Homo sapiens: one gene and its partner. The protein of the gene in region 1 purifies or fractionates together with the protein of each later gene. This does not show direct contact. Each region holds a gene or a part of one and is shown in the gene's direction. Other genes may lie near its edges. The genes, in order: KRT86 and OMA1.

The links.
Region 2: the proteins of KRT86 (region 1) and OMA1 purify together in Homo sapiens (affinity purification with mass spectrometry; one large-scale study listed by BioGRID and IntAct). This does not show direct contact.

What each region holds. Positions count from the first base shown.
Region 1 is NC_000012.12:52,272,882-52,277,499, forward strand, and holds the start of KRT86 (keratin, type II cuticular Hb6), read left to right. Parts: upstream 1-1,763; 5' UTR 1,764-1,838; coding exon of another isoform or gene 1,839-1,841; exon of another isoform or gene 1,842-2,196; intron 2,197-2,939; coding exon of another isoform or gene 2,940-3,065; intron 3,066-4,618.
Region 2 is NC_000001.11:58,501,496-58,505,313, reverse strand, and holds part of OMA1 (metalloendopeptidase OMA1, mitochondrial precursor), read left to right. Parts: intron 1-3,818. UniProt on the Homo sapiens protein: Metalloprotease that is part of the quality control system in the inner membrane of mitochondria. Activated in response to various mitochondrial stress, leading to the proteolytic cleavage of target proteins, such as OPA1, UQCC3 and DELE1.

The sequences.
Region 1 (4,618 bases):
ATTCTGACCATCCTATGAGTCAGAAGTTCTGTTTGTAGTTGTATACAAATCCTCACATATGTGCATCGGAGGACATGTAGAAAAATGTTCATGGCACCACCTTTGTAAGAGAAAGAAACAAAACAAAACAGTAATAGAATTACCTAAAGTGTGGTATAGTTACACAATGGAATACTATAAGAATGGAATATTAATATTATAATGGAGGAATACTAGCAACATAATGTTGAATAAAACAAGACCCTGTGTGACACACTTTTTATAAAAAAAGAACAAAAAAACTGAAACAAATATATATTGAGGCATATGCATGTATTTGATAAAGCTAAGAAAAAACAAAGGAATTATATCAACTTTAGGGAAGTGGTTACCTCTGGGGTGGTTAGGAGAGGACAGGGTAGGGAAGGAGCATGGAGCTAAATGTAAATTACTAGTAAGATTTTAGTTTTGGGATCAGTAAGTAGGTTCATGAGTATTTCATTTTCATTATATTATAATAATAAAGTAATATGCTAGTTATAAGAAATAAACTTAAAACATGAGGACATAAGTTGAAAGTAAAAGAATGTGTTAAGGTGATTGGTTAGATCAGATTGCCTTACACATAGTAGAAGTAAATGATTTTTCCATGAAACTTATTTCAGTAGATGTGGTGTATTTGTACGTAGGTAGTGATTCATGATACAACATATATTTCTTATTTAGAGTTGAGGTTAAAAAACAGTTTGACAACTAGTACCCCAAAGAACCTCTTGTTGAGGTCCACCAGCAGATATGTACAAGAAAGTTCATGGCAGCATTGTTTGTTACAACAAAAACAAAAAACACATGTGCTACCTATAGGAAAATAGAGATATATGTATATGTGTGTGTCTATATCTGTATCTATCTATATATATGTAGTCATACTTTGGAATACTATACAACACTGAGAAATAAAACTACATGCATCAAAAAGATGAATCTCAAAACTAGTATGTTGAGGAGGAAAAAGCAAGTCATAGAAATGTACAAGGTGTAATTCTATTTATATAAAACTTAAAGGTAGGCAAAACTCAACACTAGTTTATGGATACACGTTATGACATAGTAATAAAGAAAAGCAAGGGAATGACCAATATAAAAACTCAGGACAGTGGTTACTTTGGGGATCAGATGGGGTTGGAGATGGATCAGCAAAAATCCCGCAGGGGGCTTTGAAGGTACTGGTGGGTACACAAGGATTTGTTTTATTATTGTTGCTATTGAAATCAATAAATGTAGGTTTTGCATACTCTTTTGCATATATGAGAAATTTATAAAACAAAAAGAAAATGCTGACCACAGCTTGTGCTCTCTAGCCCCTACTCATTCCTACAGGTTAAAGTCATTGCCCTACCCAAGATTTCCTACCAAGTCTTGGGACTGGCATCCCCAGTCCCAATTTCTTGCCCTCCTGTCAATCTTCTGCACTGCTTCTAGACAATCACATCTCATGTCAGGCCACTGTCCTGCTCAGACACCCTCTGTGGCTCCCCAGTGCCCATCCATAAGCCTAAGCTCCTCAGCTCCACACATTTCCTCCACCTGAGGTAGCCTTCCCCTCCTCCACTTTCCTTTAAGTTCCACTTCAGCCCAGAAACTTCCATTTTCCCACCTGGGGTCAGAGTATGGCCCTCTTCTACCCTATGCCCCTGAGGCCTCCTGGGCAGAACTCTGTGATTGTAATGAGATGAGGTCACAGAGCCCCCAGGAAGAAGAGGCCCTAGTCCTCAGTGGCAAGGATTCTGGTAGCTCTTGGGCTGAAGCTGGGCTTTGGTGCTCAAGAGAGGCTTGGAGGAGACCACAGTTCTTTCTCCATGGTGAGACTCATACACGTGGCTCCCTGGTCACACAGGGATGAGGTGTCTTGGACTTCACCCAGATCTGTTGGGCATACAGCTTTTGGGAACAGGAGCAGAAAAGTTGGGGGCAGTGGGAACACAGCAGAAATTGAGATGATGTTTTGAGGTCTGTTCCCCCACACTCCATCTGCCCTAGAAGAAAGTTTGCAATGGGCTGGTGTGAACAGTTCTTGCTCTCTGGGTTGAGGGGGTGTGTATAACCTTGGTGGAGAGCAAAGAGCATGGGCTTAAAATGTAGTCTGGCTCAACTGTCGGCTGGCAGGGTCACTCACTCCCCTCTTGCACGTGGTGGATGGAATGAGCCCCAGTTTGCCTGAGGAAAGACAATGGGAAAAGTCACATCCATCTGGCCAACTTCATGGGTGGTTGTGAGGCCCCAGTGAGATCGTGGAGTAAAAGCTTGTGAAAAGCATCAGGCACTGTGCAAGTGTGAGTTATTGTTCCCTGGCTATTCGTGTATTGAATGCACATGGGGGCGAGGTGCAAGAAGGGAAGTGGTCCCCTGATTTCATAGACAGCACTTCCCATAGCAGCCTTGGGTTTGGGGAAGAAGCTGGAATCTAGATCACTGTCCCTGGTTTCTGATTAATGGCATTCAAATTAAGGACATTTCTTCCTAATCCTAGATTTTAAAATGTGTTTTTTAAATTAGGAAATATTGAATTTCATTAATTTTTTTTGTACTAATTTAAATGGTTAGATGTTGTAAACTACAATAATCAGTTTCCTAGAGTTTAACTCTCCCTGTTCCTGGGATAAACCCTATGTGATCTTGGTCCCAAAGCTCCCCTCAACAGATCACTGCCCTGTGTTGCTGCCCTTCCTGCCTGAGTTCAGGCTTCCTTTGGCATCTTCTGGCCCCATGGGCACAAGGCAAGCTCACTGTGTTCTTTCAACAACCTTTGGAGATAGGAAAAATGATCACTCCCATTTCACAGATGGAGAAAGGGATGCCCAGAGAAGCTAGGTGACCACTGGTGACAGCAGGTGGATGGGCAGCCCTGTCTGGCCTCCTCACCTCCTGACTACAGCTCCCCTCTGCCGTCTGCTCCACAGTGTGAGGAATTAAAGGCAACTGTGCAGAAACACACGCAGAGCCTGAAGCCCAGCAAGGAGGATCTGAACAGGCTTAATCAGGCCATCCAGTGGCTGACGGTGGAGGTGGGCAGTGCTGAGAGTCAGGTGAGAGGTGGGAGTGGGGGGCAACAGAGTGGCCATGGTGGGATGGTGACCATTATTTATGACAACTGCCCCTCCCCACCTACCCTTTGGATTAGATGGCTACACTTTCTCTTAGTGAATGTCTAAGCATACAGCAGTGCAGCTGCATGCATATATCATGCTTACCTCTGCCTAGGACATTGTGTATTTTATGTAAGTAATGAACATGTAGGTAAATCTGTATGAAGATATATGCTTGTTTGTACATTATTATCTTTTTACTTGTGTATGTTCATTTTTATGTCTGTGTTTTGTTTTTCTCGCTCAGTATTACATTTGAGCCCATCTTCAGAAATTGCAAGATATTACCTAGAAACCCAGTTTTCTGGGTTCTATTTCAAAATGTGAAGATCTGGCAATGTTAAATTATGATTCTCAAATGGCAACATTTGGCTAGAGGAGAGAGGCCTCTATCATCTCTCTCTTCTTCACATGCGGTATAGGCTGCCTGGTGTGCCGCAGTCCCCACCACTCCCAATCCCATCCTTTGGATGTGAGGCAGAGGGTCCCTTGCCATTTATCACTGTCCTGGCTGCAAGTTATTATCCTTGTAGAAGAGAAAAGGTGCTGAGTCAATGTCGCCAGAGAAATGCAAGTCTGAAAATATAAAAGAGGTGCTGGTGATTTCAGGAAATGGGAGAGGGCAGATGTATTTGTGGAACTGGGTACTCCTGATGTATATTTAGCCTTCACCTTTTGATGCTTCCAGCTAGGCCTCTGCAAGCACTTGCATTTGTGAGCCTTAGAAAGGAGCTAGTCCTCCAGGATGTTTTCTTTCTCCCATTCTCTCTTAGCCTCCTCTCTTAACCCACCCACCTCCCAGCCCTCTCACACCCCCGCTGGCTCAAGTCTCACTCCATGGAGGGAAGGGCTTCTGTTCCCGGTCTTTTCTTGCTTTCTGCAGATGCAAGTGTCTCAGGCTTGGAAGGGTATTCATGGAGAGAGATCTCCCTTGTACAGGAATGGGTGACTCTGAGAAGGGATAAGCTGCTGAGGTTCTGAGGGGGCAGAGTGAGTGGGTGGGCCATCATGGTCAGGGTCCCACCAGCCACAGCTGTTCTGGTTCCCCAAGCAGCAAATACACTTCACCAAGGTCTTATTATTTTTCCTCCTGAAGAGTATAAACTCTAGGTTCCCGTGAGGAATGGATATTCTTCTTGCTAGTTTTCCTTAGGAAACAATAACCACAGCATTACATGCCAAAGAGCATTGGATGCTTCTGGGATCCTGGCTCATATTAGGAGTTTCTCCATACTAGACGTAAAAGGCTCTCTCTCAGCCATCCTAGATAGCCGGTTTCAAATCTTCACCCTGAAGGTAGACAGGTGGGCAGGTTCTTTTCATCTTGCCATACAGACAAACAAACACAAGTTTTGGAACAGGTGTGCTCACTCCTTGCAACCATGGACAATCTCCAATCCCTCATTGGCTCTGCAGCCTCAGAGCAAGGTCTGGATCCTTAAGGGGGAAGGAGTGAGGGCCAATAATGTCCTTCTGTCCTTGGTCTACCCTTC
Region 2 (3,818 bases), on another chromosome or scaffold:
AGCAATTTAAGAATTGGTACTGGGCCATGTGCTAAGGCATAGCACAACAGATCCAGGTGTATTATAGAAGTATCTTTCTCATGCCTGTTATCCCAGCATTTTGGGAGGCTGAGGTGGGTGGATCACCTGAGGTCAGGAGTTCGAGACCAGCCTGGCCAACGGGGTGAAACCCTGTCTCTACTGAAAATACAAAATTAGGCGGGCGTGGTGGCATGCGCCTGTAATCCCAGCTACTCGGGAGATTGAGGCAGGGGAATCGCTTGAACCCTGGAGGCAGAAGTTGTAGTGAGCCGAGATCGTGCCACTGCACTCTAGTCAGCGACAGGGTGAGACTCTGTCTCAAAAAAAAAAAAGAAGTATCTTTCAGTATGACTTCAAATTCAGCCCAACAAATACGGAGTACCTCTTAAAAGAAAGAAATGATGCTAGATGTGGGGGATACAAAGAGGAATAAGATATGGTTCTTGATATTTACAGGATGCTAAGATAAATAAAAAATGATTATTAGTACAAGGATATGATTTATCATAAGAAAAATAAAAACGGTATGCAGTTTGAAGGAAGATGAATCTGCTTCTAGTTTGGGATAAGAAACTCTAGTGCAAGATTTATTCATTCATTAGGTAGATCGATATTTATTGATACTTATTGATTAATCTACTATTCTGTGTTCTATTGCTGGGGAATGAGCAAGGAACAAAACAGTCTGTTTTCTTGGAGTTAACATTCTAGTTAGGTAATGCAAATAAGAAACAAACATATAGTATGCCAAGCAATAATAAGTACCTTGGGAAAAAATAAAGCAGATTAAAGGTATTAGAGAGGGGTGGGCAGCAGAGAAGGGGTACTAGTCTATGTTCGGTTGTCAAGGAAGGCCTCACTAATCAGAATCCGGAAGGAAGCACGGGAGCAAGTCCTTTAGCTGTGTGGAGGGAGAGAGAGCCTTTTAGGCTGAGGAAGCAGCTGATGCAGAGAACCTAAAGTCAGCGTATGTTTGATGTGTTCAAGGAATAGCAAGGAAGACATTGGGGCTGAATGGAGTAAGGGAAGGGAAGAACAGTTCAAGATGAGGTGAAAGGGGACCAGACCACGCAGGATCTTCTAAGCCATTGTAAGGACTTGACTTTCACTTCAAGTGATAGGAGAAGCTAGTTGAGGATATTGAGCAGAGGAGTGACTTGATTTGACTCATGTTTTATTGTGATCACTGGCATTATTGTGTGGAGTAGACTAGTGGGGCAACGGTGGAGTCAGGGAGACTTTTTAGGAGACTCTCATAATCCTGGTAGGAGATGATGGTGGCTTGGACCAAGATATCTGGTAGCAGAAAATGGGGAAAGAATCAGTCAGATTCTGGATATATTTTGAAAGGAGTGATGACAGGATTTGTTGGTAATTTAGGCATACTTCGTGCCTTTTGTGAGCATTGAGGACAGCCAAGCATGGCTTCTTAACACCTATTTTAGTTTGTTCAGGTTGCAATAATAAAAATACCATAGACTGGGTGGCTTATAAACAACAGAAACTTACTTCTCACAGTTTGGAAGGCTGTGAAATCTTAGATCCAATTTCCAACAGATTTGGTGTCTGGTGAGGGCCCACTTCCCAGCTCATAAACAGCCATCTTCTCCTTGTAACCTCACATGGTAGAAGGGGCAAGGGAGCTCTCAAAAGCCTCTTTTATAAAAGGGTGCTAACCCATTCATGAGGGCTCCACCCTTATGACAATCGCCTCCCAAAGGCGCTTACCTCCTGATACCATCACATTGGGAGTTGGAATTTCAACATATAAATTTTGACAGGACACAGACATTCACTCTATATCAGCAGCTATCTTAACTAGATTTCATTTGTATTCTTAATTTGAAAAAAAAATTTGAGAAAGAAATAGCAGTGAAATTTACCTGATATAATATGTAGTAATTATTCCTCTTAAAAGGGTAGTATAGGCATGGGACATTATGTATTTCTTCAGTAACTGACTTGTACTGAGGATCACTGACTATAAGAGGGTCCTTTGTGCTATCCAAGGCCCCTGGGACTTTATCGCACCCTGGGAGGCCTGGGCCTGTCTCTAAAGCAATGATAACAATATGATTTTCTCTTGAATTTTTTTTCTTTTTATTTTCGCTCAATGAAATTCTAAAAATATGTGGTTTGTTTAATTGGATAATAAATTCTGTTAGCCAACTTTTCATGTGAAGACTCCTAAATTCTGAGTTGTCATTTCATCATCAAATTACTGAGCATCTTCGGAGAGGTAAAAACTGTGCTTTAGAGATGTCTTTAAAATAATAATGAATTGATTAGTGAGTAGGAAGAAAAATGGCTAGAGAAACAAATTTTATTTGGGAGCAAATGATGAAGACAAAGACGTGAGACATTTTTCTTCTAAAAATAAACTATCCTAGTTCAGAAACTTAATTTGAAAACCTCATATAATTTCTTATATTCCCCACCCCAAGTGATTAAATTCAATTTGAAAGTAATAAAACTCTATTGCAATATTGGGAATAACTCAGTGGTTGAAGTGAAACTGATAGTACAAGGGTATATTGTTAATTAGAATATACAGTCATAACTCAAAGATTGGAATTCCCTATTATTGTAGTCTAATTTCTGACATATAATGAAAGAAGGCAGTTTCTCAGGCAGTATATAGAATTATGTGAGTCTGTATACTACTACTACATTTTGAAATTATATTTTATGTAGCATGCTCTAGTGAGTATGTTATGTTCTACCTAAGGTTCCTGTCCTTTGACATCTCTAGCAGTATGGTGAAGTTATGTTCCCCTCAAAGGCAGTTGAGAATACAGCACTAGAGAGCACAGACAAATCCAGGCCAGAGATGAAGATTTCAGAGTTTCAGAGTCATCTAAAAAGAAGTGATAGTTGAAGCAATGAGAATGGATGAGTTCACGTAGGAAGTGATTAGAGAAAAAGATCAAAGTAACAGTATTGCATATTTTCCACATTTAATGGGTGGGAGGAAGACAGAGCCTGTGTTGGATCAGATTCATAGGAAATCAAGAAAGCAAATAGGAAACCAAGAAAGCAGGATTCTGTGGGTCTGTGATTAGAACACAAATTTTGATCATTTTGATTTTTAAACTTTAGCTTATTGAAGATTGTATATTTTTATTTCTTATTGGATCCCTTGCATATCATCACAAAAATGTATTGTTTCTTACTGTAGCTTATCAACTTTTAAAATGTTTTAAATTTACACTTTATGCATTCAACAAGTATTTATCAGTCATCTGTTATATGCCAGGTTGTAGGTGATGTGAAATAAATAGACAAAAATCCCTGTCCTCATGAAGCTTATTCTGCAGTAAAGGGAGACAGATAATAAATTTGGTGCTGGGGGCGGGAGTGGGGGGCAGTGAGGAGGGAGAGGCAGCTCTCTTATGTCTCTTTTTATAAAGCTACTAATCCTATTCGATCAGGGCCCCACCCTTCAGACCTCATTAAACCTTAGTTACCTCCTTTTAGGCCTTATTTCCAAATACAGTTACACTGGAGGTTGGGACTTCAAAATATGAATTTTAGAGGAACACATGAGTCCTTAGCACACAGTTATGTGTGAGCAGAGATGGGAGGGGTGCAGGAATAGCAGTGTAAAATGGGGTCCTTCAGCAGTCAAAGAAGGTTTCATTGAGAAGCTGACACTTGAACACAGATTTGAAATAAGTGAAGGAACCAGGCTTGTGGCTGTCTTGGGGAAGAGTACAAGGCTGTGGGGCAGGAGCAACAAGAAGAAAACCAGTGTGGGTGGAATGGGGTGAGCAAGGGAAGGGGGAGGGCGTGGGCCT